Linked DNA regions of Homo sapiens: region 2 is linked to region 1. The links come from fine-mapping of genetic effects on gene expression. A gene starts in region 1. The other region holds a variant in brackets. All regions are shown on one strand. Distances are from middle to middle. Region 1 holds the start of CLTCL1 (clathrin heavy chain like 1). Region 2 overlaps CLTCL1 (clathrin heavy chain like 1).

The links. PIP is the estimated chance that this variant, and not a neighbour inherited with it, causes the effect. A credible set is the group of variants that fine-mapping cannot tell apart.
Region 2: its variant is the best candidate, but not a certain one, in a credible set for the expression of CLTCL1 in subcutaneous fat (TwinsUK, PIP 0.55).

What each region holds. Positions count from the first base shown.
Region 1 is chr22:19,290,358-19,293,266 of GRCh38, reverse strand. CLTCL1 (clathrin heavy chain like 1) reads left to right here and starts at 1,548. Exons shown (of 33, transcript NM_007098.4): 1 at 1,548-1,667. The coding sequence starts at 1,626. LOC105372859 (a long non-coding RNA gene) reads right to left here and starts at 1,320. Exons shown (of 6, transcript XR_938002.3): 1 at 937-1,320. RefSeq lists silencers at 1,430-1,669, 1,551-1,735 and an enhancer at 1,846-2,359.
Region 2 is chr22:19,205,774-19,208,682 of GRCh38, reverse strand. It overlaps CLTCL1 (clathrin heavy chain like 1), which reads left to right. Exons shown (of 33, transcript NM_007098.4): 22 at 372-529. Among named protein-coding and RNA genes, the nearest start is that of SLC25A1, 28 kb to the right of the region's middle. The variant T/AT (reference allele first, on the strand shown) is at 1,673.

The DNA of each region.
Region 1 (2,909 bases):
GTGATTTAGGGAGTGATGGTATTAATTACTAAAAAATTTATATAATGTTTGGGGTAAAGGGTACTTGGAGTCACAGGCATCATTGCCAAAATAAAGAGATTTGGGAAATGTAGTACTAACCACAGCAAAACCCAGCTCTATATTTAGCGGATGAGGCCACATGGATTTTAGAAAGGGCGGGCTGCAGAGGTCTTGGCTAATACTGGAAAAGAGATTTAATTTGAAAGTGAACAGTCTGTTCTATTCCTTAACATATTTTTGGCTACTAGATGGTCAAGCCATTGCGCAAATAATTGCACCATCCTTGTCTTATTCAAGGTGGGCCGTTCATTTCTTAAAATTACCAGTGAGCAACATGGGAAGCAGCAGAGACGGCTATCGATTACCCCGTAGGGAGTGCCTGTGCTGAATGCCAAGGGCTTCCCTTTCCTGACAGACATCTTTTATGCAGCTGAATCATCTGTATGCAAAACATCAGCCAACGGTGCCTCGGAAAAACAACTGGCTGCTGGGCAAACCAGGTGTGGGCTCCAGCTTCCACCTGCTACTACTGTCGTGCAGCCACGGGCACTCTGGGTGATCCTCACTGGCCTGGGGCTGGTCATCTGCTGCTAGATGACCTTCGCTGACTCTCTACATTGATATTCCGACACAGTGTTCTCTAGAAACCGCATGAGCCAGGAAAGGTGTTTCCTAAAGGAGCAGGGGCCGAGCCTCACGCCGAAACACGTCTGTAACACGTACAGTCACGCGTCCCATGCATCCATGCATTCTGAGACATGCGTCTCGGTTGTGGGATCATCACAAGGTAACTTACACAAACTCAGATGGCACAGCCACTACACAACTAGGCAGCTGATGCGGTCCGCTGCTGCTAGGCCGCAAACCCGCACCGCGTGTGAGGTGCGTTATTCCCCTGGCACGGTAATGACATACCTGTACGTGTATCTCCAAATACAGGAGAGGAAATGTCCTTAGCTAAGCCCTCACCAGAGGACAGGAAGTTTCCAGCTCCGTTATCATGTTATGGGACCACCGTCATATACACGGTCCTCCTCAGACCAAAAGGTCGTTCGTTATACGGCACATGTGGTTCTTCCAAGACCCTTTTCCATCTTTCTGTCACATCCGTGCCTGAGTAAAAAGTGGCCCTGAACTCAACCGTCCAGAGTTGGCGGCAGAACTAGCACCACTGGCCCGCTCCACATGTGGAAGGCGCTGGGCAAGGGCCGCCGCAGACCCCATCAGGATTAATCCCCCGAAAACCTTTCACTCGGGTAGCTGGCACACACCGCGTCAGGGCAGAGGGCGCGCGGGACTACTTTCCGCGGACCCTCGGAGCGGGCGGAGGGATCCGCGCAGGCGGGACGGGGCAGAGGCGGGGGCAGGGGCGGGGGCAGGGGCGGGGGCAGGGGCGGGGCAGAGGCGGGGCAGGGGCGGGGCAGGGGCGGGGGAAGGGGCGGGGAAAGGGGGTGCGGGCCGGGGCGCGGTCAGGGAGGAGGGCGGGGGCCAGGACCGGGAGCTCGGGGCACTGCGCCTGCGCCGTCGCCACCGGTCAGCCCGCGCGAGGGGTCGGCGTTCATTCCTGCCGCTGCCGCCGCCGCCGCCGAGGTCCCGCACCAGCCATGGCGCAGATCCTCCCTGTTCGCTTTCAGGAGCACTTCCAGGTGAGGCCCGGCGGGCTGGGGGGCTGCCCTGTCAGCCGCGCCTCCGCCGGGCCGGACTGCCAGGCTTGACCCCGCGCCCCCAGCCCCGCTGAGCCGCTGCCCAGCTGGCCGCGCCGATTTCCGACCTCCCACCTGGGCTGGGGCTGCGGCGTCCCGGGCGCGGCGGCCGCTCCTGAGGACCCGCTTGGGTGCCGTCGCCGAAGCCCGTTACCGGCGGGGCCGGCTGGGGAATGGTGGGGGTGGAAGCCAACGCCCCCTGGGACGCCCCGCTCAGTGCCCGCGAGGAGGCACACAAATTCCCGCTGCAGGCAGGGCAACCCAAGGGCCGCGCGGATCCCACAGCTCCACGCCCCTCCTTGGCGTCCTGCGGTCCTTATTCGCCCCTGAGTTTGCCTCTGTGATCGGTTTTCGTCCCCAGGGCGGCTTCGCCTGGGAGGACCGTGAACATGCGTGACCCAAGAGAAAAATTTCTCAGGGCCAAGCCTAAATAGGGCTTTTCAATGCAGTAACACCCCCAAAGCCTGCCTTTTTAATAAGGTCCCAGTTTGTTCTCCATTTGTTTGTGTTCAGAAACATAAGGACTGGCCCCCTGCTTTGAGCAAAGGCTCAGGTCGGGCGTCGTGCGGGCCGCTCGCGGGTCTGCCCGGGAGCGGTGCTGGTCCCCACGTTTACCCTGGGAGGTGCGGCAGAGGAGGGATAGCCAGCGGCTCCTCCCTGAGTGCTCTGTGTTAAATCATCACACTACCATTCGTTGCGATTCGCTTACTCTTTTCTAGATGAGGAAACCGAGTCTCAAAAGTGTTAAAGAACTCATCTTCATTCAATAAGAACAGGATTCAGACTCAAGTCTTTTTGACCACAAAGTAGTACATCGAGGAACGTGCTTGCTTGAAAGTTCCTATTTTCACAGTGCAGAGCACTGTTAGCCCTAGATGCAGACGGGAAAAGCCTTGGGAACTGTGTAGTGCAGTCCAGTCCCCTCATTCTGCAGACTGGAAACTTGATATCCAGGGGATCCTGCCAGGGTCACTTGGTTAGTGACACAGTGGAAGTTGTATGGAGGTGGGAGTGCCCTGACATCTGTCCGGGCTTCATTCTGCCACTAAGCTAAGCCAGCACCAGTCATGTTGAGGTAGCAAAATACTGCTGCTGCTCATAATAATGATGATGATGTAGTTATCATTTACTGAGCCGTTTCTCTTGCCACTCACTAGACTACTGTATTTTATAAATCTGGTTTAA
Region 2 (2,909 bases), 85 kb after region 1:
TATCTCAATATCGCCACTGTAGTAATTTTAAAGTGAGTGACAGGCCCACAATTCCCAGGGATCTTCTGGTGTTTCAAGTTGATTGTGGCACCGACCTCTCTGATGTCCAGAACAAGCATTCTGTCTCCTGGCAAAGTCTTTTCTAAGGGAGGTGGCCTGAGTGTGGCTCTGCCCCTCCCCTCCTCCCTTCTGAGCTATGGATCTGCTTAGTGAGCATAATCAAGACCTCCTAGACGTTATCTGGAGTCTGAGTTCCCAGTGAGACATAACTGGAGGGTAAATGTGTCTGGCTGAGAACAGAATGGGAGGAATTGAGCCCTTGTTTAAAATTATCAGCTCTGGGTTAACCTATCTTTGTTTTCTGTCTTTAGACAACTGGGAGGATCTAGTTAAATTTCTGCAGATGGCCAGGAAAAAGGGCCGTGAGTCCTATATAGAGACTGAACTTATTTTTGCCTTGGCTAAAACCAGCCGTGTTTCTGAGCTAGAAGATTTTATTAATGGACCCAACAATGCCCACATCCAGCAGGTAGGCCATGCCCCCTGGGGGCTGTGCACTGCCAGTCAGATTTAGGTCCAGGGATGTTCCTCAGAGCAGCAGTCCCGAGCTGTTTTGGCACCAGGGACTGGTTTCATCGAAGACAGTTTTTCCACAGACAGGTCGGGGGTGGTTTGGGGATGATTCAAGTGCATTACATTTATTGTCCACTTTATTTCTACTGTTATCATATTGTAATATATAATGAAATAATTCTACAACTCACCATAATGTAGACTCAGTGGGAGCCCTGAGTTTATTTTCCTGCAACTAGATGGTCCCATCTGGGGATGATGGAGACAGTGACAGATCAGCAGGCATTAGGTTTTCATAAGAAGCATGCAACACAGATCCTCGCGTGTGCTGTTCACAATAGGGTTTGTGCTCTGTGAGAATCTAATGCTGCTGCTGATCTAACAGGAGGCGGAGCTCAGGCAGTAATGCAAGCAATGAGGAGCAGCTGTAAATACAGATGAAGCTTCACTCGCTTGCCTGCTGCTCACTTGCTGCTATGGGGCGTGATTCCTAACAGGCCACAGACCAGCAGCGGTCCGTGGCATGGGGGTTGGGGACCGCTGCTTTAGTGTGATGCAGATAAAGATCATGAGAAGCAAGCCACACGAGGAAGTAAGTAACCTGTTGCTATTATTGGTATGGAAATTGAGACCCATGGAATTTTGACATGCTCTTGGCTATACACATCAGAATAATTCTCCTAGAAGAGATGTGAAGACTTACATCCAGGCGTTCTGTTTACTACAAGAAAACAAAATTAATTGAGTCAGAGTTAATAATCTGGATGCATAAAATATATATTGAAAATTAATAGGCTGGGCATGGTGGCTCATGCCTGTAATCCCAGCACTTTGGGAGGATGAGGCGGGTGGATCACCTGAGGTCAGGAATTTGCGACCAACCTGGTCAACATGGCAAAACCCCGTCTCTACTAAAAATAACAAAATTATCCAGGCCTGGTGGCACACGCCTGTAGTCTCAGCTACTCAGAAGGCTGAGGCAGGAGAATCGCTTGAATCCGGGAGATGGAGGTTGCAGTGAGCCGAGATAGCACCACTACACTCCAGCCTGGGTGACAGAGCGAGACTCCGTCTCAAAAAAAAAAAAAAAAAAAAAAAA[T/AT]TAGTAGTTTATGTCACCAAAAATCAGATAACATAATGGGGAAGAAAACATTCCTTTTTTAATAGGAATAAAGCCAAAATGTTTAAATAAACCTTAACCATAAATAAAAGATCTAAATAATTGTGGAGTCCGCCATGTAGATAAGATGTTACCCTTGGAAAATGTGATGCAGAGACATGAAGAGATAATGGAATGTATTATAACTCTATATTAGTTACAAGTGCACTTCTTGGAGGAACGCATGCAATTTATTGAAATGAATAACAACAAAGTGGGCCGGGCACAGTGGCTCATGCCTGTAATCCCAGCACTTTGGGAGGCCGAAGTGCGAGAATCGTTTGGGCACAGGAGTTCAAGACCAGCCTGGGCAACATAATGAGACCCCCATCTCTAAAAAGGAAAAAGAAAAAAAATAACAAAATGAACTTTGAGCTTTTTATTTCAAAATAAGTTCCAAGTAGTTGTTGGGGCTGGGCACGGTGGCTCACACCTCTAATCCCAACTCTGGAGATAGAGGTGGAAAGATCACTTGAGCCCAGGAGTTCAAGACCAGCCTGGACAACATAGTGAGACCCCCATCTCTATCAAAAAACTAAAAAATATTAGCCGAGTGTGTGGCATGCACTTGTAATCACAGCTACTTGGAAGGCTGAAGTGGGAAGATCACCTGAGCCCAGGAGGTCAAGGCTGCAGTGAGCTGTGATCGGGGTGAGCTGTGATCGGGGCACTGCACTCCAGCCTAGGCAAAGAGCGAGACCCTGTCTTTAAAAAACAAACAAACAAAAAGAAAACAAGGGGGTGAAGGGCCTGTAATCTCAGCACTTTGGGAGGCCAAGGCAGGTGGATCACTTGAGGTCAGGAGTTCAAGACCAGCCCAGGCAAAATGGAGAAACCCCATCTCTACCAAAAATACAAAAATTAACCAGGCATTGTGGCACATCCTGTAGTCCCAGCTATTTGGGAGGCTGAGGTGGGAGACTCACTGGAGGCTGGGAAGTCAAGACTGTAATGAGCTGTGATTGTGCCACTGCACTCCAACCTGGGTGACGGAGTGAGAAGCCTGTGTCAAAAAAAAAAAAAACAATGGTTGGAAATTAAGTTAAAGTTTTGAAAGGTGTTAAAAGTTCATCATGTAATTCTGTAACCAAGTAAAATTCCAGATGAAAGAATTAAAGGTAAAAATTGAGCTTTTCCTTAAAATTTTTTAAAAATATGTATTTGAATTTTTGCATGAGAA